2 linked regions of the Homo sapiens genome follow. Each later gene encodes a partner of the first gene's protein in a complex. Each region holds a gene or a part of one and is shown on either strand. Other genes may lie near its edges. The genes, in order: SMARCA5 and RSF1.

Region 1 (16,117 bases):
TAATGATGAAGAGTTAGAGGAAAAAGAGAAGCTTCTAACACAGGTATAGCCTTTAATCAGTACAAACTTTAGTAACAGTTTGTTGTAAAGGACTGTGTTAGGTTATGTTGGGGCATAAAAATAAATACAAGTTTCTGCTTTTAAAGATGGAATAATTGGAGACAATAAAGTATGGGCATGTGGATAAATGCTCCATCTGATTGTCACTAGTTGAGGTAGTTGAGAAGACTACAGATTTTATTACTCTGGCTCGGTAGAGTGGGTATCTTTTTTATCACCTTACTTTGAATGTTCCCGTCTTTCCTATGAATTTTCCACATTGCTACCCAGTCACCATTTTCAACTATAAATCTTGGCTTGGTTATTTTTTAAACATCCTTTGGTGTTCATCAAGGTCTTTCAGAATCTGGCCTTTGACTTACCTTTAAAGCTTCATTTTCCTTCCATTTTTCTACTTGCTCATATTTTTGCCCTTTATGTTATTCACTCTTTCTGGCCAACTGCTAGTAATCCTTCAAAGCTCAGTGAAACTGTCACCTTTTCATACAGTATTCCTTACTCTCAGCCACTCATATTTAATTGCTTGGGTATTTGAGCAATATATAATGTGTTGTCAAAAGTGTATATTTATGTACACGAAAAGTTACCACTCTAAAAGAACTTAATAAACTAGTGAAAATTTGTTTTTGTAATATTTAGAAGGTTTGCTAATAGCATGTTTTCCAAGTTTAATGTGCTGTGATTAAATATTTTGTTTCTGTTCCTGTGAAGGGATTTACCAATTGGAATAAGAGAGATTTTAACCAGTTTATCAAAGCTAATGAGAAGTGGGGTCGTGATGATATTGAAAATATAGCAAGAGAAGTAGAAGGCAAAACTCCAGAAGAAGTCATTGAATATTCAGGTAATTCTTTTAAGCAGGCTGTTGGAGTTTAGTAAGAGCTGTTGGAAGGTTCTTGTTTTCTTATTCTGAATTATGTTGTGATTAGCTAATTTTGTCACAGTGTAGTTAGTACCTTCTTCATTATTTTTTACAAATTAGAAAATGTTCTGTTTCCAGAAATGGCGTAATGGTTTCCTTTTTAAAAATTTTTTAACCCTAGCTAACTCTAGCGACAGCAAAGAAAATCAGAATAAGTCACTGGATAATTGCCCTTGCATTTTTATCTTAATTTCTCTGCATAACTTCAAGTATTATGTGTTGTGTTTCCTGAAGTCAGTTGTATTATTAGGTTAACATGTGAGGGTATGCTGTGGTGAGTCTGCTTAGAATAGCAGAAATTTAAGAATTAGAAGATAAATAATCCAGTTGATCCCATTTTTTTTACATTAAAGAAATAAAAATATAAATGATTTGTTTACTTTGTCCAACTTTTACAGCTGTGTTTTGGGAAAGGTGCAACGAGCTCCAGGACATAGAGAAGATTATGGCTCAGATTGAAAGGGGAGAGGCGAGAATTCAAAGAAGAATAAGCATCAAGAAAGCACTTGACACAAAGGTAATTTGCTTGTTAATAAGTTAGGTAGTTAATAAAATAACTCCTAGCTGTGAGTATGAGAGAGTGACTTTTTATAAAGGAAAAGAAGTAAGGGTTTACAATTTAAAATTTCTTCAGAGTAGCATTCAAACATGGTATTGTCAGCAGAATTTACCTATACACTAGACTGATAGATCTGAGTCAAAGACACTAAGATTAGCTTTTTACTAAGTAGAATCAGGAAGTCTTAGTCTGTATTTCTCTTTATAATAATAAAGACTATAAAGGTCTTTCGGGACAAAGATTATATAAAGCAATTGAAGTGCTCTAGATAGAAAATTCTGATTTGAAATGCAACATTTTAGCTAATTATACTAAAGCTGAGTTTGAAATACAGATTATATAGGATTTGTATTTTATATAATATAAAATCTGACTTTCATAGATTGGACGGTACAAAGCACCTTTTCATCAGCTGAGAATATCATATGGTACTAACAAAGGAAAAAACTATACTGAAGAAGAAGATCGTTTTCTGATTTGTATGCTTCACAAACTTGGATTTGACAAAGAAAATGTTTATGATGAATTGCGACAGTGTATTCGCAACTCTCCTCAGTTCAGATTTGACTGGTTTCTTAAGTCCAGAACTGCAATGGTGAGTGCTCAGGGCTTTTTTGTGTAATGTAGCAGAGTTCAGAGTAAGTGTCATCTTTGGTATTCTTTAAGGTGACTTTAAAAAAATCTATGAAGTAGACTTTTGTTACAATATTGTTAGTATCATAAAACCTAATACCAGGGATAGCTTACAAGTTTATTGGTCCTATCCTTTAGTATCTTACGTCTTTAAATATCACTATATGATAAGACTAGCTTTTCAAGTTCTAAGTGGGAGGAAGTATCAGTTTCAACTTCTGAGTGTTACGACTTTTTGGTTTTTCAAATGAACATATTTCTATAAAGAAAAATGGTCCTTGCATTCAAGCATCTGCACATCAGAATCAGCATTCTGATTTATTTAATATAAATCATCCAGAGTCTGGATTATTTTAAGATGGCTTATTATAGTGAAACACTACTTTTGCACTGATTTAGTGCTAGGTTTTGTTTTTATTCCCAATATCTGACTAACAGTTTCTGACCAAATAGCCCCATTTCTAATAACCTAAAATTTGAATTCAGAAAAGTTTAACTTTGATGGATTGCTCCTTTTCTTCCTTATTTCACCACCATTGAACTTTGAGCTTCAACTTGTTTTCTGCCAGATGAGGATAATGCTAATAAGTTCTTTAGTCTTAAGTTTGGGATATTCTGGGATAAGCAAAGTTTAAACATCTTTGTGTTTGTTTATAGTAAGATTTCTCTGTATATTTAAAGTAAAATGTCACTTTGTAAGACAGTGGATAGTAAGCAGTATTTTCATGTTTGACCACTGAAAATTTTTTTTCACTAGACATCACTGTTTGTGATACCCAAGTTTGGGAAATGTACTAAACTTAAATACATGAAGATACTTTGAAGATAAAACACTGTATAAATATATAATTAGAGAAAAGATCCAGTTGCTGAAAGCTTATTTCTTCTTAAGTGGGAACAATTTATAGAGTTAATAAAGAATAATTTTATAGTGATTGTAACAAGACAGTGCCATGTTAATTTAACTAGTACAGTACCGTAATTTAAAACTGTGTTACTTCTTAACATGTTCCATGTTAAGATGCACAAAAAATGATAATGTATTCTTCTATCTCTATATACTATTTCTAAGTCTTGTGTGGTGTATTCTATACAGTAGTATTTTAAAATTATTTTACTGTAGTTGTGTGTGTAGTAGTATCACTTACTATAAGAAAAAAATAATTTTGCTCTATAAGAAAGGGGGCTGCTACCCAGCAGCCGTCCGTGCAGATGGACTTCTGTTTCTTTCAGGGTTAACTGCTACTTCTATGTTATACTTTAAATCTTTTCTGGAGGCTGTATGTCCAGTTTGCCAGAGAGAGATGAGGTAGAACTCATCGTAGACTTCCATGGCTGGTTTTCCAAAATTGGGAAAGGTGCCATGTGATTGATTGACTACCATAATTCTAGTGATACTTTGAAGGGAAAGATTATACACACCTGTTAAAGTTCTTGTTGTTTTTGACCCTCACATATGTGCACTATTAATCTTTTTAAGTTTTGGATATAAGTAGCACAGTAGTTCTCAGACATACACACTAAGTAGCAGTATTGCATATGTTCATTTTTATTGCTTTAATTCCTAAGTGAAGGAAGAATTTTTGAAGAATACACAGTAGTTTGGCTTTAAAGATTGGAGTAAAAACATTATTTACAAATATCTTGCCTTTAATCTTCATAGCATGAATTGTATATGAAAATCAGTTGTTTTTTTTTTAAATCAGGGGTGTATTAGTGGTTTTATATATTATCCTATTAAAACATACCTTGTTTTAAAATTGAAATCATGAAACTTGTGGATGGAAAGTGCGTGTACCATGTTTGTTTATAATTTAGGAGCTCCAGAGGAGATGTAATACCTTAATTACTTTGATTGAAAGAGAAAACATGGAACTAGAAGAAAAGGAGAAGGCAGAGAAAAAGAAACGAGGACCAAAGCCTTCAGTAAGTATTCATGAATATGTAAATATGTGGATTATGTAAATTTCCCCTTTCTAAGTATTTAACACTGCTTGGCTGTCATTGATGTGTTAGTCCCTGTTGTGCACCCCTCCATTGCCTTTACTTTTTTTTTTTTTTTTTTTTCCTTAAGGGAGAACCCAAGCTCATAATTTGAGATTCTTCCACTTTCAAATTTAGGTAGTGGTATAATTTTTAATTTTTAGTTGTTATGAGTAAGTATGTATTTATAGGTTACATGAGATACTTTGATACAGGCATGCAATAAGTAATAAGGACATCAGGGTAAATGGGGTATTTATCACCTCCAGCATTTATCCCTGTTACAAACAGTTTAACTCTTAGTTATTTTAAAATGTATAATTAAATTATTTATTGCGGTAGTCACTGTGTTGGGCTATCAAATACTGGGTCTTAGTCTCTCTTTGTATTTATTTGTATCCATTAGCCAGCCCCACTTTCCCCCACCCCCACTGCCTTTCTCAGCCTCTGGTATCCATCCTTCTCTCTGTCTCCATGAGTTTAATTGTAGTTTTTAGCTCCCACAAATAAGTGAGAACATGCCAAGTTTGTCTTTCTGTGTCTGGCTTATTTCACTTAATAAACTCCAGTTCCATCCATGTTGCTGCAAATTACAGGGTCTCATTGCTTATGGTTGAATAGTATTCTATTGTGTATACATACCATGTTTTCTTTATCCATTTATCTGTTGATGGACACTTAGGTTGCTTCCAAATCATGGCTACTGTGAATAGTGCTGCAGTAAACATGGGAGTGCACATATCTCTTTGATATACTGACTTTCTTTTGGGTGTAAACCTAGGAGTAGGGTAACTCTTATCTGTAGTTTTTTGAGGAACCTTCAAACTGCTTCCACAGTGATTGTACTAATTTGCGTTCCCACCAAAAGTGTATGAGGGTTTCCTTTTCTCCACATTCTTGTCAGGATTTGTTATTGCCTGACTTTTGGATAAAAGCCATTTTATCTGGGATGAGATGTTATCTCATTGTAGTTTTGATTGCATTTCTCTGATGATCAGTGATACTGAACAGCTTTTAATATGCTTGTTTGCCATTTGTATGTCTTCCTTTGAGAATCATCTGTTCAGATCTTTTGCCTATTTTTAAATCGGACTGTTAGGATTTTTTTCAGTAGAGTTGTTTGAGCTCTTACATATTCTGGTTATTTATTAATCCTTTGACAAATGGGTAGTTTGCAAATATTTTCTTCCATTCTGTGGGATGTCTCTTCACTTTGCTGTTTCCTCTGCTGTGCAGAAGCTTTTTAACTTAATGTGATCCCATTTGTCCATTTTTGCTTTGGTTGCCTGTGGGGTATTATTCAAGAAATCTTTGCCCAGTCCAGTGTTCTGGAGAGTTTTCCCAATGTTTTCTTGTAGTTTCACAGTTTGAGGACTTAAAGTCTTTAATACATTTTGATTTGATTTTTTTATATAGTTAGGGATACAGGTCAAGTTTCATTCTTCTGTGTATGGATATCCAATTTTCCCATTACCATTTATTGAAGAGACTGTCCTTTCTCCAGTGTATGTTCTTGGTAGCTTTGTCAAAAATGAGTTCCATGTAGATGTATGGACTTTACGGACTTATCTCTGGGTTCTCTGTTCTTTTCCACTGTTGCACTGATCTATGTATCTGTTTCTATACCAGCACCATGCTGTTTTGGTTACTATAGCTCGGTACTATAAGTTAAGTCAGGTAATGTGATTCTTCCAGTTTTATTCTTTTTGCTTAGGGTGGCTTTGGCTATTTCTGGGTGTTCTGTGGGTCCATATAAATTTTAGTATTTTTTTTTCTATTTCAGTGAAGAATGTCATGGGTATTTTGATAAGGATTGCATTGAATCTGTGGATTGCTTTGGGTAGTATGGACATTTTAACAATATTGAATTTGCTAATCCATGAACATGGAATATCTATTTTTTTGTGTCTTCAGTTTCTTACATCAGTGTTTTATAGTTTATCTTAGAGATCTTTCGCTTCTTTGATTAATTCCTGGGTATTTTATTTCACGTGTAATTACTGTAAATGGGATTACTTTTTATTTTTCACATTCTTCACTGTTGGCATAGAAATGCTACTGTTTGTTGTATGTTGATTTTGTATCCTGCAGTGTCACTGAATTTGTTTATGAGTTCTAATAGTTTTTTGATGGAGTCTTTAGGTTTTTCCAAATGTAAGATTATGTCATTTACAAATAGGGCAATTTGACTTCTTTGTTTCCGATTTAGATGTCCTTTCTTTCTTTCTCTCGTCTGATTGCTGTAGCTAGGACTTCCTTGAAATACTTAAAAAGTACAAATTTAGCTTGACTGGGTTGTGTGGGAAAAATCACTTCTTGATGATATGGTAGTCCTTAATATGGGGCTTCGTGAAAATCAGGAAAGTATGTCTCGTAAATGTCAAGTGTGTACACATCTCATTGAGAATACAAGTTATAATTTTAGAATAATTTAAGAAACATTGGAAAAGCAGTGGTATTATGACTTTTACTGTTAGTCTCTAAGCTTTGATTATTTCAGTGATGTTTTAGCAATGTGAAGGCAAACACTTAAAGGGAAAAAATGTTATTTAATAATAGTTAATTTAATAAAAAATGGTTAATTTATAAAGTCATGAATAAATGAGTATCTCTGGATAATATTTGGTACTTATGTAACTGCCTTTTAAAAACTCAAGTGTTTCTTACTATTTTGGGAAGCTTGCATTTATTTGATATTGATCTACTACTGTTAATTGTGCATTAGTTTTATAACGTCATTATTAACATTAACATTTTTTATTCTGTAAGTAAAATAAGTAGGTAAGATTATTTGGAGGCTTTATAGTTTGCTTTGAAAGATTTATATAGCCTGGGGGAAAAGTCTCATACCTATTACTTTGTAGTAGTTGTTATTACTAAAGTGTTATAATGTGTCTGCAACTATATTTCATGTTTATATTAGTCTTGTGAAAAGTAATCCTTCTGTCTGTTTGTAGACACAGAAACGTAAAATGGATGGCGCACCTGATGGTCGAGGAAGAAAAAAGAAGCTGAAACTATGAATATGTTTTTGTTTCATAATCACTAACTTTAAACCAGTAGTTCTTTAATTTACGGGTCTTCATAAGATGTACTGTACAATGCTCAATTGTTATGTCATTTAAAGACATCAGGTTCATCTGTTTACTGAGCTAGAAACATAGTATGTAGTTTCACTTTTTTAAATGCAACAGCTGTGCTGAAATTTTTTTATCATTAACACTTGAAGTAATAAAATAGGCTTCATTTATTACTAAGTGTTTCATTTGATTTATTTTTCTATTGTAGTTCCATTTGTGAAGATTGTGACTTTTTGTTTATTAGCTATAATTTCTACACTTGTAAGGCTTAAAAACAAGTTAAAAAGAAAATTGCAAATAACATTTGTCCCTTTCAGTCTTCACCTAGTTGTGTAATTATTTTAATTCACTTTGCCTTTGCAGAAATTTGGGTATTTTCTTTGTAGTGCTATTGAGTCTCATCTGGAAAGATTATATAAATTGCATTCTCCTTGCTTATGTGGGTAGAATGGGAAAAGAAGGCAAGACAAAGTATACTTAAATTCTATGCATATTTCTGTTATGCTTTCTGTTTTTTTTAGTTGATTCTGAAATGAATATGCCCTATTCTTTTGAAAGAATGGCCTTTTAGTTGTATAGCCAAAGACATTTAGTATTTTCCGGTTCCTTAAGGTATTACTGTACCATTTTGTAAAAGGAATATTATTATTATTATTTTTAATTATTTGGTAAATATTTTGTCATATGACCTTCTGAAGCAGCCACAACTTAGATAATGTCAGAACTAAGGTGATTTTTTTTTTTTAATTTTGAAAGCCCAGCCAAAATGAGGTGTGAATTTGTCATACTGTTACATTGAAATTGGTAACAAAATATATCCCCTCCCATTTGGACTTTTAGGGTAAATGAAAATTTTATTGTATTTTAAAGTAGTTTCTAAGTGTTAGCAAGACTGACTATAATTCCAGTTTCTGTTTTCTATGGACAGACCTGATAAACTGGAGACCCTAAAGCAGGAATACCCAAATTATAGTGTCAGGATTTTAGCTGTACCAGAGGCCTTTATGTGCTACACATAATTTGTATAAAATTTTATATGTGCAGATTGGGTACATAAACAGTTCTCCATTTTTCTAAGGGAATGCAATAAATGTAGCATCGTGAATAAATATAACTTTTATAATCCGTAAAGTGGTCTTTTCTTTCCATTTCTTTAATTGTTTTCTCAATTTTTATTCACTTTTTCCTTTAGGACACATTTCCCTTAATTGGATATCTTTCCCTTAAATTTCTATTAGTAGTTGTTTTCATCTGCCCACATGTAATTGAAGATTTAAAAAAAAAATTTTGATACCTGCAGTATTACTAATACTGCTTAATTTCTTGAAATGTGGAATTGCTGCTGTTAATGTCAAGCAAAACGCAGTATTTATGGCAAATTGTAAAGTAATTTGAATTTAGTGCTACCTCAAAATTAACTTTTTAAATACTATGTTAGATTCTTAACAGTTAAAGGTCTAATACATGCATGAGGAATGGTTACTTATGAAAGGAAAAAGAATTTGTAAGAGTTATCACCTCAGTTTGGAAGAAATTGAAAAAATGTAAGGCTGAAGAAAACTTACGGAGGTCACAAAAGTGATGTTTTCAAGAGGAGGAGAAACTGGGAGGGAGATACACAGTGGAAATGCAAAATGAATCAAGTATAGTGGTAGCCCTGAGAGCTTAGGGACTCAAATGGAAACTGTGTGAAGGGAAACTCACTTGAAAAAAAAGCATGAACCAGCTAGGCCCTGCCACCACTGTGTTTGGCCAAGTTCACAAATCTGTTTTAACCTGTCACTTCCCTGTCACTTCTCTGGCTTTCCTCTCCCGCTAAGCTTTTGTTTCCTGGCAGTAATTAAAATCTTCTGTCAGTGCCACAGCTACTACTGCTACTGGAACTGCCTTAACCACTACTGCTACTGGAACTGCCTTAGCCACCTTGGTATCGTGGTTTGGCAAAGTATTGGCCTCTACCACCATAGGGCCCAGAGCTTCTGCCTCCAAAGTTTCCTCCCTTCATGGGTCCAAAATTTGAAGACTGATTGTTGTCATTGCCAAAATCATTGTAGCTTTTACCACCTCCAAAATTGCTTCAATCATTACCAAATCTATTATAGCAATCCCCACTGCCACCATATCCATCACCACCACCATGGCTGCCACCAAAGCCACCACGATCACAGAACTTGATGACTGTATTTGTGACTAATTGTATAATAGTTTCTGTTCTGTGGAAAGTAAAGCATTCCAACACAGGGTTTCAGTGTAGATTGTTTTGTTTTGTACCCATGCTGTTGATTGCTAAATGTTTTAATAATCTGATCATGATACTGAATAAATGTCTTTTTTTTTTTTTAACAACAAAGCATGAAAGATTGCTTAATTGTACATCTGACAAAGTGCTGGAGGCTATTATAAAGTGTAATTATTACTACTTTTAAGAGACAGGGTCTTGCTCTGTCACCCAGGCTGGAGTGCAGTGGTGCAATCACAGCTCACTGCAACCTCAAACTTCAGGGCTCAAGTGATCCTCCCACCTCAGCTTCCCAAGTAGCTAGGACTACAGATACCACGCCCAGCTAAGTTTTTTTAGTTTTTGTAGAGATAGGGCCTTGCTATGTTGCCCAGTCCGGTCTCAAACGCCGACTTCAGGCAATCCTCTTGCGTCAACCTCTCAAAGTGCTGGGATTACATGTGTAAGCCTACATTCCAAAGTGCTGGGATCATAGTTGTGAGCCTACACCACACCTGGCCTACATTTTGTTTTTCATAAAGTTGAGAGAAGCAAATCCTAAGCATAGAGTACAAGTTGAGCATCCCTAATCAAAAAATCTAAAATCAGAAATGCTCCATAATTTGAATGCTCATTAGGGCATTTCTGATTTTTGGATTAGGGATGCTGAACTGATAAGTATAATGCAAGTATTCTAAAGTCTGGAAAATGCTAAAAACACTTCTGGTTCCAGGCATTTCAGATAAGGATTGCTCCATCTGCCCTTTGAGTATTTAATATATGCCGATTGTTTGAACTAATCTGGATTTAATTATATAAATGATTATATAAATGATCTTTGGCTTAGTACCTTTCTTAATCTCGATCTTAAAAAGCATTGTAAAACACCCCTGTGGTTTTTCAGAAAAATTCTGAGTAAAAAATAAATTTCATCTTGTTCTATCCCTTTGAATCTAAAAAACAAATCTTTTTGAAAGGATGTGCTACTATATTTCAAACCAGTAGTTTTGGAGTAGAACATTGCTAAAAAAATGGGTACTAAGGAGGGTAATTTAAACAAAGTAGATTAATGACACAAGGTGGATTGATGAACTCATAAATCCAAATGAATGGAATGCTAGAAGACATGTATTAACGGAGTAGCTGTTACCAAAATATATACATATTTTGTATATGTACATAGCTGTTACCAAAATGTATCTTTGCCTGTTGGAATCTGATGTCAAGATCAAAGGTGAGGGCATCCCTCAGATGACAGATAATGGGCAAAATACATTCTTGGTGTGGAGCAGTGCTGCAGAATTAACTTCGCTGTGTACATCCCAGAATCGTTTTGGATCTGTTAAGGTTTTTATTAGAATGATTAAATAGGCTTTTGCAGCATTAACTTTACAGTAGTTACCAGAAAAGACTATGCTACAAGAACCAAAATTGAAGTAAGAAGAAAAAGACTGAAATGATATGATTCTAAATGAAAAAAATGAAGAAGTGGAATAGTTTCTCCACAGGCATAAGAGGCAAAGCATTGTTTCAGAAGTGGACTGGCACCTCACCTGAGATACTCAAGACTGGCAACATGGGTCTACATTCTTTGTTACCACAGATTCCCTTGTGTCCGGAGAGATTCCCTAGCTCTAATGACAGCTTTTTTGGGGGGTAATGAGGCTATGAGAAGATTGAGGATCTAGGTACTTGCCTTTAACTCTACAGCATACAAGGTGTGTGGCTCTTATCTCTAGGACACCAATATTTAATGTTGCATATCATGTATCTCCAGTACAAGAAGAAAGTTTATCAGAATTTAGTTAATGTTGGAAACTTTGTAATATAAACAATGTAAACACTACATTGACAAAAATATTTTATTAATACAAAGAATATGCATATAGTTTGCTTACTACAGAAATTCTTGTTTTTGATGTAGACAACCCAAAGGAGTTTTTATGTATATAGATTGTGAATAAATTGGGAAAAGAAATAGAGATAAGTAGAGATTATTTCACTTCATTAAACTTTTGAAGTCCTAATTTAGTTCATGTGATTATTTGTAAACTTTTCTTTATTAGTCTTCCTCAATCATTGAAGAACCCAGGATTCAAATACAATACTTAATGGAAACACTTTTTCATCCCAAACTAAATCCTGCCCTGAAAGCCGAATTCACTATGAAATCTGAGATGAAACTCCAAGGCTATTATGCTGGCCAGTGGAAGGTTGGTTCACCCCTCTTGAGGTGACATTAGGGTGGTCTGCAGACATCACTGGAGTGGACAAAGAGATGCCTGGGTGGTTGGGGAAAGGACAGATCATAGACAACAGTAGCCTCTTTCTAGAGCTCAGTTGCAATAAATACCACAGTTACTCATCAGACACATTGGCAGTTCTACTTATTCCCATGTTTCAAAACTAGAGAATTCTAGCAAGGACTAAGCACTGCTTCTGTAGACCATCGGTATTTCTCCATGGCTGTTTGAATTTTTGTCAAAGCTTCTGTGTCTCATGCACACTAGTGACTTTTGAGACAGAGTCTTGCTCTGTCACCCAGGTTGGAGTGCAGTGGTGCGATCTAGGCTCACTGCAACCTCTGCCACCCAGGTTCAAGCAATTCTCCTGGCTCAGCCTTCCGGATAGCTGGGACTACAGGCATGCACCACACCTGGCTAATTACTGTATTTTTAGTAGAGACAGGGTTTCACCATATTGGCCAGGCTGGTCTCGAACTCCTGGCCTCAAATGATCTGCCTGCCTCCGCCTCCCAAATGTTGAGATTACAGGTGTGAGCCACTGCATCTGGCCTGATGCAGATTGATAATTTCTTGAGTGAGGCAGTGCTGTTGCCTAGTAGCAAGGCTTAGCTGGGTGAGACATTACTAGCTGCCTTCAGAAGCGGATCTCTGCCCTGAAGTTTACCAGCCTGCTTTCCTTGATGCCCATGCTGGCTGGGTGTAGGGATCCTGAGTGGAGGGAAAAAGAAGAATAGATGATACAGATTTGCTGTGCAAAGGCGGAGTTCTTACTGGCTCTTCCTCACAAACAGGCTGGTGATTAGCTGACTTTCAGATTCCCTTCTGGGAGGTGGCAAGGGGCCATCTGGTCATCCTAGCTTTGCAAGGAGTAACTTTTTTTTTTTTCATTTTATATGCCCTTTAATCCCAGTAGATGGATAGGTTTGCTTTCTTAGTATGCTTTCCAGTTGTAGAAAGGTCTTTTCTCTGGGTATTGGCTTTCCCCCAGCCTCCTATTTTTTGCGCTCCCCCTCCTCCCCAGCCACCTCTTTCCCTGGGAGCCAACTTGATAAAAGTAATGGCACAAGTCTTGCAGAATACTCCTACCAATCTAAATGCTGCAGACGCCACAGTGCTTTTTTCTCACCCTTAATAGTCGTAAGATAAGTTAGAGGGAGCTCCTTCAAGAGTACGCTGAGTTTAGTTTCTTCACAGCAGGAACTAATCTTTAAAAAAAATTATCATTGGGCTCCTTATTGTAACTGGACAGTACTGGAACTGGGTGGGTGCTTGATAAGAGAATGAATAGTTTAGGTAGTTACAATGAAACCACAGGCACCTGTAGAGGTCTCCCCAGGCTCACCTTGACGCTCTGATTGGCGGCTGCAGACCCCATCCGCGAGATGGCAGTGTTAGGAACAAAGGTGAGCTGCCCACTGCAGGTCAAACGCTGCCGGCTACCAGCTGCAGCTGGGAGTGAAAGACTAGAATACAGAAAGGCGCAGGCAGTCACGTAGGACTAGGCCGGGTTTAACACCCGAACAGTGGTGCTAGAAGGTCAGAGTCTTCTACGTACATGTTGGAAACATCCTTGATTGTCTAGCACCAAGACTTTTAAACACAGGGGGACAAATCATCACTTTGGGTATTTGTAATTGTTCGTCAGTTCAAATCTCTTGGTTTTAAAAAAATACTTTCCCTCTGCGCGACTGGCGCGTCACGTCGCGCGCGACCAGTCCGCAGGGCTCCTCCCGCGCTGCTGATAGGCCCGCAGACGGCGGCCCAGCAGAGGAGCGGAAAGCATGGTCCGGGGGGCGGCGGACGCCTGGTAGGCGCTCGGGCCGTTGTTGTGGGGCTGCGCGCTGGCGCTGCAGGGCGGGATGCTGTACCCAAGAGAGAGGCCGTCGCGGGAGCGGAAGAAGCTGGACCGCCTCTGGAGCTTCCGCGCCGACTTCTTCGACAAACTGTGCCTTGGCTTCTAGGAGTAGTGGTATCGGCGTCTGCTGCGAGAGTCGGGCTCCACCATGGACATACCGGTTCCCTCCAGCTTCAACGACGTTGGCCAGGACTGGCGGCTGCGGCATTTTGTAGACCAGATGTGGTACGAACGGGAGGTGACCTTCCTGGAGCAATGGACCCAGGACCTGCACACAAGAGTGGTACTGAGGATTGTCAGTGCCCACTCCTATGCCATCGTGTGGGTGAATGGGGTCGACGCGCTAGAGCATGAGGGATCTACCTCCCCTTTGACACCGACATCAGTAGCCTGTTCCAGGTGGGGCCCCTGCCCTCCCGCCTCCGCATCACTATCACCATCGGCAACATGCTCATCTCCTCCACCCTGCCACCAGGGAGCATCCTCGACATGGCCGACACCTCCACGTGGGTACCATCCTGCTTCCACCGCAGACACCCACCTTCCTGTCCCACCCCGTGGGGCATTACATTAGGGTAATTACATTAGGTAAGTCACATATCAGTGACTTACAAATTTTGTAAGTAATTAAGAAATTTTCAATAAGTGTGGAGCTGAATATTTACATGAGCCCTTCAAAAACTGATAGTTAATGGAATAAATGAAAATAACAGGAGAGACTTTGTTGAAAGAAGACAAAATAGTCAAGGAAGTGATAGAGGATACAAAAGAAAGATGAAAACTTACATTCATTTAATGTCTAACCGTGTGCCAAAAGACAATATTATTATTTAGTTTTCATAACCACAACATTTGGTGGATATGATTGCTTCCATTATATAGGTTAGGAAAGTAAAGCTTAGGGGTTTGTGAACCCACTAGTTTAAAGTTGTGTAGCCAATAGGTGGTTGAGTGAGAATTCAAAACTGGAACAGATTTGCTTGATCCAGAATGGTATAACTTTATTGTCCATGCATTGTCTTCTACATTTTACTGCCTGTAAAGTGGGAGTCAGTTATGGGAGGAGACCCAGAATGTCACAGGTTTTGAAAGCTGCTGTGGAAAATTTGGAAGGAGGCATTGGATTTAATGACTGATACAGGTCAGTGCAGATTGACCTTGGAGAGAACAGTTTTCTTCAGTGGCATGGTAGTGTTCAAAACAGGATCTGATGGTAAAGAAAATGTAGAACCAGTGTGTGTAGACTCCTTGATGGAAAAGTTTATTTGTAAAATATCAGAGGAAAATTATAATATAGATTTGTCCATTCAAACCCCAAAGTCCAGATTCTTACTGCAATATTTGATGTAGCCAATATACAGCAGTTGAGTTCAATTTTGGCCCCTGTTTATGTGTATGCTAAAGAAAAATAACAATCCTAAGCCTATGCCACTTAAACAAGAGGATGTGATTATACTATGAAACACTTGTGACCATAGGAATATAGCAGTGCTAAGGCAAAATAGGTCTTAACTTGACTTTTCCTGTCATTTGCTGCCATTGTTTGCCAAAGGTCTAGCACCTATCTTCAGAGGAAAGTCAAGAAATTAGTGCTCAGATGGTGGGATGAATTCCTGAATTATTGTTGGCTCTAGTAGTTTCTTCAGATCAATTTTATAGTTTCTTTAGAACTAGAAAATTAGGTCTCAGAATGGCAGTTGGCCACCCAATGTGTATAATACAATTACTCAACCAGCTGCTTGAAAGCAAGGGGCAACAGAGAAGTCAGCTACTGGCTCAGGCAACAGGAAATTTGATGATACTCCTTGGTCAAATCCTTCATTTAACATACATTTATATAGAACCTTTCTGTATCAGGCACCATTCTAGGTACCACAGATAAAACAATAAAGAGAACTGACAAAACCTCAGCCTTCATGGAGTTTATATGCTAACACATATGCATAAACAAACACATATAAAAATCCAGAAAGTCGTTACTGCTGTGAAGACAAACAACACAGAGTAAGCAGATACTGATGTTGGGTTGTTGCCTTAAGGTGGTCAGCAAAGTTGTTTCCGGGGAAATGACATTTGGATGAAAAACTGAATAATGTAAGAGAGTTAACCATCAAACATCTGTGTGAAGATCTTTAGGAGGAGTGGGGGAACCGCAAGTGCAAAAGCCCTGTGATGGGAAAGTGCTTGTTATGTTTGAAGAACAGCAGTAAGACACCATGGCTGGAGTGTAGTGGGGGAGGGAGAGAGAGGTGGTAAATAATAATGGAGACTTAGTTAGGGCCACATCATGTAAATAGAGCTTTTACAGTCTTGTAGACAAGAAATATGTTTTGATTTTTCCCTAAGTCCACAAAATAGTTTGTGATAGAAAGCCATCGAAAGATTGAAAACAGGGGAGTATTATTTGTAACCTCAGTTGCTGTTCCATGCAGGCATAGGAAAGAATAATGCTTCCTTGCTCCATATCTATTGCTGAAACAGTTCTCCATGATCTCTTTAGTCTGAGGACAAATGACATTTTTCTGGTTACAAGACAGAGGGGATATGCCATCCTAGGCATT
Region 2 (14,159 bases), on another chromosome or scaffold:
CTTCATATTGATGGAATTGTACAGTACCTAACTCTTTTGTGTCTGCCTTCTTTTACTCAACATGTTTTTAAGATTCACCCAGGCTGTAGTGTATATCAACAGTGTGTATTACTCTGAGTAGTATATCACAATTTATATTTTTCTGTTGATGAATATTTGTGTTGTTTTTGACTTTTTGGTATTTTTAATAAATTAGCCGTTAATTCTAATTGAGCAAAATATTTCCCCCTAATAGGACATGAAATTTGAAATATCTTAAGAAATTTCTTATTCATAAACAAAGTTGAACCAAGTGTAACTTAATGCTTATTTAAAGGCCTCTTCATGGCAGTAGCAATAAATCAAATACAGGTTTTAAAAATAGCTACTCTTTTTTGCACCTTTACATTCCAGTCTGATAAATATAACTCACTTATATAACTACATAAATTGTCGTTAAGCTCTGTATTCCACAATTTCTCTTAGCCCAGGAAAGCAAGAAGTGATGATAGCATTATGGGTGTGTGTCATTTATTTTCAAGAACAGACTTTAGTGAAGGAAGGCATGCTTAAACCTTGCTTTGTAGCAAAACACTTCTTATCTTTGGGTGGATATAACTTTCTGATGCCAAAGGACTCTGTTTCCCTGCCGATCTAGATTAGAAAAGGCAGAAACTCTAACCTTTATTTATCAGTCTGTTTGACTAACAGTGTGAGCAGTGAGAAAAGAAAACTATAGTAATAAAGCTTTTTTTTTTTTTTAGAATGTTATTTCACAACCTCACTGGAATGTGGGAAGTGAAGTGCTGCAAAAGCTAGAAGCAAAGATAGAAAGTACAGGCAAGGTTCACATAATAAATCTTCCTTTTAGGTTTGAAGGTTCTTTCCATAGAAATTCCTTCACAAAGATACAATTTTATTTTAAAATATCCTGTACCTGGCTTTTATTTAAGGTCAGTTAAGTAACCAGTATATGAAAGTCTTTGTATGTTTCCACAAAACTGTTGTTAAAACTGTATTCTGGGTCAAATTATTCTTTTTTTTTTTTTTTTTTTTTGAGACAGGGTGTAGTTCTGTCGCCCAGGCTGGAGTGCAGTGGCAACTACATGGGATTACAGATGAGGTCTCACTACCTTGCCCAGGCTGGTCTCGAACTCCTTGGCTCAAGGGGTCCTCCTGCTCGGCCTCCCAGAGTGCTTGGATTACAGGCATGAGCCACCCCACCTCGCCCAGATTATTTTTAAACTGGAGTCTTCAGGTCCCCAGGGTCAAGAGATATACACTTGCCCGTTTGGGAATTCTATAAAAATGTTTTAGTTTAGTTTTGTGTTTCATTTCAGTAATTGCTTAAAAACAATATTTTCCGACTTATTAAATTAAAACTTCTTTGGCAGTGATAATTCATAACCATAAAGATATTTTCCTGAAGTAGGATTTTAATTTCTTTTTTTTTTTTTTTTTTTTGAGACGGAGTCTTGCTCTGTCGCCCAGGCTGGAGTGCAGTGGCACAACCTTGGCTCACTGCAAGCTCCGCCTCCCGGGTCCATGCCATTCTCCTGCCTCAGCCTCCCGAGTAGCTGTCTACAGGGGCCCGCCGCCACCACGCCCGGCTAATTTTTTGTATTTTTAGTAGAGACGGGTTTCACCGCGTTAGCCAGGATGGTCTTGATCTCCTGACCTCGTGACCCGCCCGTCTCGACCTCCCAAAGTGCTGGGATTACAGGCGTGAGCCACAGCGCCCGGCGGATTTTAATTTCTTAAAAGCTTTTTTATTGTCGTAAAATACATGTAACATAAAATATGCCATTTTAACCACTTTAAGTGTATACTTCAGTGGCATTAAGTACATTTACAGTGTTCTTTAGACTTTGATTTCTTACATCAGTATTTCTTACAGTGAAATTTTCAAAAGTATTTGCCAAGTTTCAAAAGAACTTTTTTCCTTTAAAAACGGTTTGTATACCACTCAAGACTATGAATCACTATTCAAGGCAATAAATTCTTCTTACAATATAGAATTTTTCTCTTGATAAATTGAGTATTCTTTCTTTAGATAATGGGAATAATACACACCCTTATGGTTTTTCCCCTTTTTAAAACCTGGAAATGAAGAAAAAAATTCGGTGTTTGTGTGACCATTTTCCCTGTTACTCATATAATTATTTGCCCATCTATTTCTTATCTTTCTATAATTACAGATTTCTCTTTTTTACATGGTTTGTGTTGTACCTTGCTTCAAATTCTTTTTTTTTTTTTTTTTTTTTGAGGTGGAGTCTTGCTCTGTCGCTCAGGCTGGAGTGCAGTGGCGCGACCTCGACTCACTGCAACCTTCGCCTCCCCGGTTCAAGGGGTTCTCCTGCATCAGCCTCCCAAGGATTCCCGGCTAATTTTCGTTATTTTTACTAGAGACGGGGTTTCACCATGTTGCCCAGGCTGGTCTGGAACTGCAGAGCTCAGGTGATGCACCCACCTCGGTTTCCCAAAGTGTTGGGATTACAGGCATGAGCCACCGCGCCCGGCCAAATTCTTTTTAGGAATTAGGTACTACATTGAGTTTTAAATGCACTCAGAAAATTCTCAAAGTAATAAATTATAGACTAAATAAATATAGCGGAATTCAGTCTAAATTATAGGAACTCCTTTTTTGATAACTAATATTTTTAAAGTACTCACTATGTGCTACGGCACTGTGCTAATCACTTTACTGTGATTTATCTAGTAATACCGTATGATGTAGGTACTATTATCACCCCACTCTAAGGAGTTCAAAGAAATAAAGAAACCTCCACAGTGTCATGAAGTAGCCCCGCTAGGACTCAGGCCTGGCTGAATCCAAAGCTCAGGCTTCTAAGCATAACGTGTACTGCTGCTTCTCAGGCTGCACATTCTATTTTACATTATTGGTAGTTTCTCTCTGGCGTTCTTTGTGGGAATGTTCACTGCCCCCGCCCCGCCCCGAAGTGGAACCCTGTCTTCTAACAAACTTTTCGCTGCTCCACCGTCTCCTGTCATGTTCCGCCTCTCAATGGAGTCCCAGCCCACACTCCGATTCTGGTCCCTGAACAGAGCCCCTTCCCCTCACACCATGGCCCCCTAGCAGAGCCTGGTCTCCTCAGATCCTCTTCTCCCAGCAGGGCCCCAACTCCTCACTCCGACGATTCCCCCAGAGTTCCGTTCCCTCAGATCCTGCTTTTCCAGCAAAGCTGCGATTCCTGTACCCCAGCAGAGAGCAATACCCCGTCGGCAAACTTCCACAGAGACATCTTACCGAGGTCCCAGCCCAGCCCCTAATTAAGGGCACACCTCTACCTTTCCCCTTCCCAACCTTCTCCCACAACTGTGCTTTCCCCCGCCCTATTCCCTTTTTCTGTTTATTAATTCTCCTCAACCTCTCCACCATCTCGTGGCCCAGTTTCAGGATTCCCCCGCAAACTCACCCACCGCACTGTCTCCTCAAAGTTGCGTTCCCAAACGGCGCAGTGCTCTGCCCGCACTTACGCTCCCAGCGCTGCTTCGGGATCTGCGCTCCCCAACTGCCCTCCGGGAATACGCCCTGCAGTTGAACAGCGCCCGAGGCCCCGCCCCCTCTGCGTCCATTGGCCATTGTTCTCGAGAAGTCCCGCCCCTCCCGCTTCCAGCCCGCCTCCCCGCCCCGCTTCCCTTGTTTTCATTCCCCCTGTCACACGAGGCAGTGGCAAGCCCGAAGGGGAGGAGAGAAGGGGGCGGAAAGAGGGCGGAAAGTGAAAGGCGCCGAGGGCCGCTCTGTCTCCCGTCTGACTCGGTTCTCGACTGCTCCGGGCCGCCGATGTATTGTGGGATCGCGGAGCCGTCCCTGAGACGCTGGGATCCGCAGAGGAGCCCACTTGAGAGCGCCTCCTGTCGTCTGTAAGGTTGCCTTGCCATCCCTCGGCACCACAACTTCCCCCGCCCCCCCATCGCCTCCTCCTCCATCCTCCAGTTCAAAATGGCGACGGCGGCGGCAGCGGCGGCGGTGATGGCTCCTCCGGGCTGCCCGGGTTCGTGCCCCAACTTCGCCGTAGTCTGCTCCTTCTTGGAGCGCTACGGGCCGCTGCTAGACCTGCCTGAGTTGCCGTTCCCTGAGCTGGAGCGGGTGCTGCAGGCGCCGCCGCCGGACGTCGGCAACGGAGAAGGTAAGCGAGGGGCCCGAACGCCCGGCGGGAAGCGGCCCTGGCGCTCTGCTACTCTCCGCTCTTCACAGGCGCCCCGGTTCTTCGCGGCTCGGGCCTCCGCGGCTCTGTCTTCCCCCTGGGACGCAACTCCGCCGGGCTGGTCTTCTCCGCCCAGCCCCCGGGGTCTTGGGCAGTGGGGAGGCGGGGCGGAGGCCCCCTAGGGCCACTCGGCCGGGCGGGGAGCTGAGGTGGAGGCGTTGCGGGCTAGGTGTGGGCTGGAGGCGGGGAGGGGTCATTGTGCCGGTCGGCAGCCCCGGGGACTGCTTCTCCGCGGCGGAGGGCGGCCCCCCACCCCGTCTCCCCCTTGGCGGCGGGGGAAGGGGAGCGCAGGTTCCGGCCAGCTTTGCGCTTTTCTCCTCCTCCCCACCCTTACTCCCTCCCCTCCTCCCACCAGTCTTCCCGACCATCTCGGGGAAGGCTGGGCTCGGCTGCTCCGGACACCTCCTTATCTCCCTTCACCTGGGTGGGCGGGGGCCAGCGGACACTCAACTCTCCCTCCCTCTGTTGGGAACTCCCCTGAGAGATTTGTCCCTTTTCCCTTCCCCTCGAGGGCTGCTTTAACCCCTAAAACTCCTTCCTTGAAGTGGGGAGGTCTGCTCCTCCCCCACGGGAGGGGGTTCTTCTCCATTCTCGGTAGGGGGGCGAAGTCGGTTCAGCTCCACTGTGGAGAGGAGAGGGTTAATTCCTCCTCCATAGTTCTCCTTCCTCTCCCCACCTCCCCCAAAATAATAGGCGAGCATCTCCCCACTTTTCCAATCCCTTCCCCCTTCATCTTGGCAGCCGGGCTTAGGCGAAGAAGTCGTCTCCCTCCCATTTGCACGGTAGGGTGGGGTGGTTAGTATGTAAGCTGGAGGAGGGGCTCTGACGGAGGGGGAAACAGTTGAAGAAGGTGCTTGTTGCTCATGTTTCTCTCTCTGGTGCCGCTGGTCTATTATTGGTGTTCGCAAGTGGTGCTCCTTCCACATAAGGCCACCGCGCGGGTGCAGGGCGCATGCTCTGCCCGGCCCCATTGAAACTTCCTGCTGCTGCTGCTGGTTCTTTTGCTGGAGCATCTCAGCGCTGCGCCTGCTGCCTCCAGCCTTCACACTGAGTGCTTATACTCACCCCCATTTATTCCCGATCCCTGCCTCTCCTTTTCTGGCACTTTTCTTTCCTCAGAGAAGGCTTTTTTGTTATACTCTGAGCATTGCCTTTATCTGGAAACAGCCCTTGGCTGGAGAAGAAACGTTTTCCAAATAGGTCTCTTTTTTTGTCCATATTAGCTGGCCAAAGTGGATTGGTTATTGTACAAGACAGATAGCTGTTTCCTTTCCAAGAAAGCAGGGTCGCTCTTCTATTCTCTATGTAAATGAAGAAGTTTCTGTTAACTGAATTTATTTGCATTGCTAGGAAGCGCCAAGTATGAAGTTCTTCAGAATATTACCTATAAAGAATCTGTATGATGTTATGGCTACCGAAGACTCAAATTAATACAGCAGTTATAATATAAGCCTAGTAATCTGTTCTTACCTGTCCACATTCCCTCTACCTGTAACAAACTGGCTTACAAAAGGCTAATTTAAAAAATAGTACAAAATAGGAGGGTGACTAATTACATTATATAAAGGCTTCTCACAGAATTTGTTTAAAAATTAAGCTCCCATTGTAGTAATTTCATTATCAAATTGTATTTACATTCTTTTTTATATTTTTTATTTTTATTTGTTTTTTGAGACGGAGTCTCACTCTGTTGCCCAGGCAGGAATGCAGTGGCAGGATCTGGGCTCACTGCTACCTCCGCCTCCCAGGTTCAAGCGATTCTCCTGCCCCAGCCTCCCGAGTAGCTGGGATTACAGGTGTGCACCACCGAGCCCGGCTAATTTTTGTATTTTTAGTAGAGACGGGGTTTCACCATGTTTGCCAGGCTGATCTCGAACTCCTGACCTCGTGATCCACACACCTTGGCCTCCCAAAGTGCTTTACAGGCGTGAGCCACCAAGCCTGGCCCGTTTTTTAATTTTTAAGAAGGTAGTCATTGTGAAGTAGGATGCCTTAGTAAGTTGCTTTTAGGATGCCTTGGGAAGTGATAGTAATGTATCTCTCAGAGAACGAACTGTGGGCATTTGGGGAAAGGATGGCTAGTAAATTGTTTTGGTAATTTCTTTGGACCAAGTTGAAATGCATAGGTTTTCTGGGATGGCGTGGTATTTTGGGTAGTATATGAGATTGCTTGAATCTACATTTATTTTAGGTATTTTGACCAGTGCATTTAGTTTATATTAATATCACAGGAATACAATATTAGAGTCAGTTGAATTGAATAGTGGTTCACTAAGTAAGTAAAAATGACAGGTAACCTGGGCTAAGAAGGATCATTTATTTCAGCCACTGCATTACCGTTGGTATAGAGTTGCTAAGGGGACTGATAATAATAGATCCTATCATAAGGTGATCTTAGAATAATTATTAATTAATGTTACACAGTTCAGAACACTTGGCAAATGAGAAGTCTCTGCAGGTGAAATGCTGTTACTGTGCAGGGAAACGATTTTCAGAACTTTGATGATGAACCATGATATCATCATCAAAGTTGGCTTGTTGGGTGAACCTCTGTCGTTTTATCAGCTATTACAAACTTTCAGCCTGTTTCAAATAGCTGATAAAATGATAGTGGCTCAGCCAACAAGATTTGAACTGAGTCTTTTTGGGAAAGAGTTGTAGTGTACAAGAGTTAAAAGACATGGATTTAGTTCCTTGCAACTGTTCTCTGAAGTTGATAGTATTATTCCTATTTGGCAGGCATAGAAACTAAGGCTCAATAGATTAAGGTGCTTAAGAGTCTATAGTTAATGGTAGAATATGATTTCCAACCCAAGTCTGAGTCCAAAGCCACAAAATTATATACCTTGCCATAGTATCATGGTTTCCAAACTGCACCAAGGCACCCTAGAGCATTGTTGCCAACTCCATCTGATAGTTTAAATTTTCAAGTAGGATACAGTGGTAGCCGAAATTTGCTGGTTGCCAGGTGAGCTACTGCCTTGACATACTTCATGGTTTCAAGGTTGTGCCACATTTCTATAGATGATATGTCTTTGTGAAGCTGGTTTTTTAGCGGTTGCTGTGGTAAAATTCACAAAAAAGTCAGTATGCAGCAGGAAAGAGGATAGCAGGGTCCACTCTGATTCCAAGGTTTGAAAAGTTGTGCAGTGCCCAACAGTAATACACATTTCACAAGTAATTATGGTTAAGAATGAAGTAAAAACATTATTTGTTGAAATTTAGCTAGGTTATTTTTTCACATGGCTACTGACTACTTAATAAGTGGAAGTGTTATTATTTCTGGCCTAGGGCTGCTGTGAGAAAATTACTGAGATACTGAGGGTGCCGTGAAGCTAGAATGTTTGAGAACCTTTGCTCTAGAAACTATCATTGAATTTCGGGGCAAGAAAGAAGGGACTATTGTGTCATTGCCTTTATTTTTCAGGAGGAAAATCAAGCTACAGAGAGAGATTTCAAGTGTATACAGCTAACTGTTGGTGTTAGTCAAATTCTTATTTGAAAAGCCCACATATATGCTGAAATTGTCAACAAAAAATTTAGATTTATAGTTGATACTAGTTATAAAAGGATGTGCCAAATGAAGGTGGTGTTTTATCCTCCTCTCCCTGCAGTCTACTTTAGTCCTCCCAATTCTGTGCTTTGTGTGGACTTCCCCAGGTTTCTCCTAACTGGAGGTAGATGATGGTGGTTATGGATAAAGTTGACGTTGACTTTGTGAGATCCCTGACACCCAAGGCTCCTAAGTATCTTTCCTCTCCTGCAGAGAATATTTCTTTTCAAGAGGAAACTATACTACTGTATTCTTTAAAAACAGTCTGGATATTGGTTGAGATGTTACATATATCTAATAAATTTATTAAGGTAAATACAGATAATGTGTTAGGATTCTCATAGTTTATACTATGGTTGGCTGAATTAGTTGTATGATATTAAGTAAGTTGAGCCATTAGTTTTTTGTTTCATTTTTGCATTTAATGATTTGAATTTTAACTCGAAGTGAAAATATCAAAGTTAAAAAAATGCCTTTTTAACTGGAATTGTAACTATAACTTACTATGGTCTCTCTTACTGGTACTGTAACTGATCTGTGTGTAACAATATATTTTTAGGTGCATTTGATAAAGTGGAAAGGTGATTACTGTAACTGGGGCCACATGTGTTGATTTAAACAAAAGATTTTACCAGGTGCATGTACTAGAGGTTGCATGAGTCTACAGTGGTAGACACTGGTAGGGCATACATACATTAATAGTAGTATTGCTGGGGCCAGAGCCTGGTTAGGTTGAAACTTTTTAGTTGTGTCTCTTCTGCCTTTGAAAAAGCAAATATTCTTTAGGGCACTTATTAGATGAAAAGAGAGAAACAGATTTCATCTCCACCATTTTCGATATGTCATAGAGTAAAGTTACGGAGGTTTGGAGGGAGGTTGTTGTCATTGTCCTAGGAACTAGGAGGTAATGGAGACAGAGGGACTTGTCTGGCTAACATGAGCCTGTTAATGCAAACTGGCTTACTTTTTAGTCTTTTAATGATTAAGAAGTTTGCCTTAAATTTAGATGTTTTGTTAAGTTCTTAAACAGACCTCACCGGTAAGAAGGTAAGCAAGCATTTATTAGTGAGGTTATTCACTTAATATATATATTGAGCATCTGCTATGTACAGATGTAGCTACAGTAAATATTGTGGGGATTATTTTTTTAAAAAAACATTAAACATGAGCCTTTTAAAAGAAATTTCTAATCTAGTAAGAAATAGCTAAACTGAGCTTGAAACTAATGACATCATTCAAAGACTTAGTTTTTTTTCTCTGAGATTTTATCAAGTGGAGCAATAGTCCGTGCATTCTAGTCTACAGTTGTAAACTAAAATTATCTAACAATTTTATGGTGAGATGTATGACCACATGCAATATGAAAAAGAATAATTCAGGCCTAAAGTACATGTTAAACTGAATCATGTATTCAAGGAAGACAGTTATGTGTGTTGTTAGATTTAATAAAATTTTACTCTACCTGATGGGTATAGTCTTAATATATTATGCTTGGCTTTTTTTGTTTGTTTTCTGTTTTTATTGTAGAGTAGATCCCACAAAAGGTATTAGGGTATTTTCTATTTTCTTTTAAAAACATTTAATTATATGGGCAATTATAATGTACACTTTGTAATTACATATGTTCTAGCAGGCTTTGATTTTTAATTTGTTTAGCTTTATATGGTCATATCTGTACGTTAGGTTTGCATTAGCTAACTTTTAAACATTTTTGCTCGCTCTTGTACTGTTGGGCACAAGCAGTGCCTCCAGGCAAATTGATGCCTAAACTAGAGAGAACAGCAGGCATTCTCTCCTTACTCTTCCACTTCCCCTTTACTTCCATTTCCTGATCCTCATGTCTGAAGTCACACCACCTTTAGCCATTTGAAGGGGCTGCTTCTTCCATTTTACGCTTTCTTTCACTTGTATGCCATAAAGTGCAGTGCCTGCTAGCTCCAGTGTGCTCTGTATGAGGTTTGCACCAGTGTGTTAGGAAGAAAGGAGGCACTGAAATTAAAAAAAAACCATATTTTGGGGGTTTCCAAGTCACTAAACAATTGAACCACAATAATAGAGGAAACTGACTTAAACAGTATTAAACTGGTATTGCTTCAAACATTATCAAAGGATTTCTGAGGTGAATGCCTACTTTATAAAAATGTATTTTTTCGGCTGGGCACGGTGGCTCATGCCTGTAATCCCAGCACTTAGGGAGGCCCAGGCGGCGGATCACCTGAGGTCAGGAGTTTGAGACCAGCCTGGCGAACATGGTGAAACCCCATCTGTACTAAAAATACAAAAATTAGTCAGACCTGGTGTCAGGCGCCTGTAATCCCAGCTACTCGGGAGACCGAGGCAGGAGAATCGCTTGAACCTGGGAGGCAGAGGTTGCAGTGAGCCAAGATGGTGCCACTGCACTCCAGCCTGGGTGACAGAGCGAGACTCTGTCCTTTTTTTTCCCCCCCAGAGTTAGGGCCTTGAATTCCTGGGCTCAAGAAATCCTCCTGCCCCAACCTCCCGAGTAGTTGGAACTACAGGCACATGCCACCATGCCCAGCTAATTTTTAAAAATTTTTTTGGTAGAGAATGAGGTCTTGCTGTATTGTCCAGGCTGGTCTTGAACTCCTGGACTCAGGTGATACTCCCACCTCGGCCTCCCAAAGTGCTGGGGTTACAGGCATGAGTCACCACTTGTGGCCAAAACTTTTTTTTTTTTTGAGACAGTCTCGCTCTGTGGCCCAGGCTGGAGTGCAGTGGCGCGATCCTGGTTCACTACAACCTCTGCCTCCTGGGTTCAAGTGATTCTCCTGCCTCACGCTCCCAAGTAACTGGGATTACAGGCATGCACCACCATGCCTGGCTCATTTTTATGTGTTTAGTAGGGACAGGTTTTGCCATGTTGGTCAGGCTGGTCTTGAACTCCTGGCTTCAGGTGATCCAGCCACCTCCACCTCTCAAAGTGCTGGGATTGCAGGCATGAGCCACTGTGCCCAGCCACTTCTTATTTTTATCCTGAGTTTAGGGATGTGTTAAATTGTATTAATTCTCCATTATCTCTGTGTGTGTGTGTGTGTGTGTGTGTGTGTGTGTGTGTCCTTTTACAAATTATAAATGGCCGCTCTTTGAGGAAGTCGCGGTGGTAGGTGCTGCGGCTCTGTGATCCGCAGGCTCCTGCTCCTTACTCACTACTGTTCGCTCTCGCCGAGGAACAAGTCGGTCAGGAAGCCGTGCAGCAGCTATGGCTTTGAAGGTTACCGGAAAAACACGCGTGGAGCTGGAGGTGGCAGTTCACCGAAATTGAATCACTCTAACGAGCCGCAACATAAAATCCCTGGAAAAGGTGTGTGCTGACTTCATCAGAGGAGCAGAGGCAAAGAATCTCCAAGTGAAAGGACCAGTTCGAATACCTACCAAGACTTTGAGAATCACTACAGAAAAAGTCCTTGTGGTGAAGGTTCTAAGACGTGGGATCCTTTCCAGATGAGAATCCACAAGCGACTCATTGACTTGCACAGTCCTTCTGAGATTGTTAAGCAGATTGCTTCCATCAGTTTGAGCCGGGAGTTGAGGTGAAAGTCACCATTGCAGATGCTTAAGTCAACTATTTTAATAAATTGATTACCAGTTGTTAAAAAAAAATTATAAATGGCAGACTTGATCCCATTCATCATTAGACTACTTTCATGTTTTGCTCAGAATTAAGTAAGTTTTAATATTCATTTAAAAATACTTATCAAATAAATTTGGTTTCTCTCAAAGTAAGTTGTGTAAGATATTCTGATTTTAGCAAATTATTTCATAATTTGTGCCTTTCTGTTAATAAACAGAAGAAGCAGGGATGAGGTGGTGGGGAATTTGCAGTGTTTATTTAATCTTACCAGTTTAGAGGCTGGACAAAGAGCAAGAATTAAAAGTTATGCTTAGAATGTTTGTCCAAAATTAAGGTGATCTTTTCAGTGTAAGAACATGAGTTGTGAGGGCACAGCAAGCAGAAACTACACCAGACTGATTTTTTTTTTTTTTTTTTTTTGAGATGGAGCTCTGTCACCCAGGCTAGAGTGTAGTAGTGCGATCCCAGCTCACTGCAACCTCTGCCTCCTGGGTTCAAGTGATTCTCCTGCTTCAGCCTCCTGAGTAGCTGGGACTACAGGTGCCCGCCACCACGCCCAGCTAATTTTTTTGCATTCTTAGTAGAGATGGGGTTTCGCCATGTTGGCCAGGCTGGTCTCAAAAACTCCTGACCTCAAGTGATCTGCCTGCCCCGGCCTCCCAAAGTGCTGGGATTACAGGCATGAGCCACCACATCCAGCCCAAACTGATTTTAAGAAAGAAGAGCATGAGGGCAAAACTTGACAGCAGACAGACCAGGCTTCAGCCTCCTGTAGTTGAACAAGGATTGCTTGAAGAGCAACATGAAGTATATAATGTATATATGGCTCATGTAAGCAAGAGTTCCTCCAGAAAGCTTTCGTAGTGGAGGTTGAGTCTGTATTTAATTTTAGACTCTAAGCTTTATTCTCCAGTATTTGTACATGTTTATCTTAATCATTTTCTGAATAGTAGGATTATACAGTTTTTTCCCTTTGGTTTTTCTTATATTTTTTCACATTTCATTTTCTATGTTAATTGTGCATTTCTTTGATAATCACCAAAAAACTATTTAAAACTAGATTTCTAAAGAGGCTTTTTAAAAGGAAAATTGAATTTCTGCTTGTATTTATGTACTCTTATTTTTATAGACAGGGTCTCACTCTGTCACCCAGGCTGGAGTGCAGTGGCTTGTTCTCTGCTGACTGCAACCTCTACCTCCCAGACTCAGGCGATCCTCCCATTTCAGCCTCTCAAGTTGCTGGGGACTACAGGCATGTGCCACCACACCCAGCTAAAAATTTTTTGTATTTTTAGTAGAGACAGAGTTTCATTATGTTGCCCAGGCTGGTCTCAAACTCCTGGGCTCAAGCAATCCACCTGACTCAGCCTCCCCAAGTGCTGGGATTACAGGCGTGAGCCACCAAGCTCAGCCTATTTATTTATTCTTAATCTTGAATTACCTCTTAAATGAATGTTACTATCATCTACCCAAGTCACTCAGATCAGAAACCAAGGAGGCATCCTAGACCTTAGCCTCTGACACTTTCTTTGATACCAAGTTATATTGAGTCTGTTTATCCCCTTTTATATTCAACCTTGCTTTTCTGTTCTCATTGCTAGTTTTAATCACGCCAAACTGCTTTTACATCTCTGAAGATGTGAAAGGTTGTTTTACATTTATGCTTTTTCTTCGTCCTCCTGCCTCTGAGTCGAATATACCATCCCCATCTTCCTTCCCTTGCCTGCTCACTGTACCCGTCATTAGTCTGCTCTTTAAGCATCAAATGCTCTGTGGAAAATTTCCTTCTTTCTGTCTCTCAAGTTAAATTAACCACTTCAATCTCCTTACCCTGCACGTACACTTTGTAGATTTTATGCCACAGTACTCATAACACTTTTTGCAGTTACTGCCTAGCCTACAAGATGGTAAACTCTTTGAGGACAGGGTTTCTTACTTTATTTTATCACCAGCAATTGGTGGGTAATAGCAAATATGTAGTAAATGTTTGTGGAATTAATAGTTTTCCTCAACTTACTATAGGACCATGTTCTGCTCTAAAACTTTGAAGTTAAAGCCTAGTCTGTGATAGCTTAGTACAGTGGTGGGCAATCTACAGCCTGTCCTCTCTATCTTTGTAAATAAGGTTTTACTGGTATACAGCCATGTTCATTTGTTTACATTCTGTTGTCTGTAGCTGCTTTCACACAACTGTGGCAGAGTTGAGTGATGGTCACAGAGAACATATAACTTCAAAACCTAAAGTATTGGGCTGGGTATGGTGGCTCATACTGCAATCCAAGCACTTTCGGAGGATTGTCTGAGTCCCAGAGGTTGAGGCTGATCATGCCACTGCACTCCAGCCTGGGTGAAACAGCAAGACCCTGTCTCAGAAAAAAACAAAACCCAAAACCTGAAGAACTTATTATCTGTCTAGCCCTTTACAGAAAAAAATTTACTGATCTTTATTCCAGTGTATGAAGATGGAAGTCTTATCAGATGATGATCTCTGTTTTTGAAAATACATTTAGAACCAGTATAATACAAATTTCCAGCCTCGCCAACATGGTGAAACCTGGTCTCTATTAAAAATACAAATTAGTTGGATGTGGTGGGATACACCTGTAATCCCAGCTACCTAGGAGGCTGCCACACAACAATTGCTTGAACCCAGGAGGCAGAGATTACAGTGAGCCATGATTATGCCATTGCACTCCAATCTGGGCAACAGAGGGAGACTCCACCCATCTCCCCCCCAAAAAATAAAAATAAAAAGGAACCAATATAATACAAATTAAATGCCTAGAATGTCCTGTGAATGAAACTT

What was found.
Region 2: SMARCA5 (region 1) and RSF1 share a complex: the UniProt entries of both Homo sapiens proteins name them as parts of the RSF-5 ISWI chromatin-remodeling complex.

The regions. Positions count from the first base shown.
Region 1 is NC_000004.12:143,546,005-143,562,121, forward strand, and holds the end of SMARCA5 (SWI/SNF-related matrix-associated actin-dependent regulator of chromatin subfamily A member 5), read left to right. Parts: coding exon 1-43; intron 44-771; coding exon 772-904; intron 905-1,380; coding exon 1,381-1,499; intron 1,500-1,923; coding exon 1,924-2,136; intron 2,137-3,992; coding exon 3,993-4,100; intron 4,101-7,114; coding exon 7,115-7,180; 3' UTR 7,181-11,482; downstream 11,483-16,117. UniProt on the Homo sapiens protein: ATPase that possesses intrinsic ATP-dependent nucleosome-remodeling activity.
Region 2 is NC_000011.10:77,810,499-77,824,657, reverse strand, and holds the start of RSF1 (remodeling and spacing factor 1), read left to right. Parts: upstream 1-3,935; 5' UTR 3,936-3,943; coding exon 3,944-4,130; intron 4,131-14,159. UniProt on the Homo sapiens protein: Regulatory subunit of the ATP-dependent RSF-1 and RSF-5 ISWI chromatin-remodeling complexes, which form ordered nucleosome arrays on chromatin and facilitate access to DNA during DNA-templated processes such as DNA replication, transcription, and repair.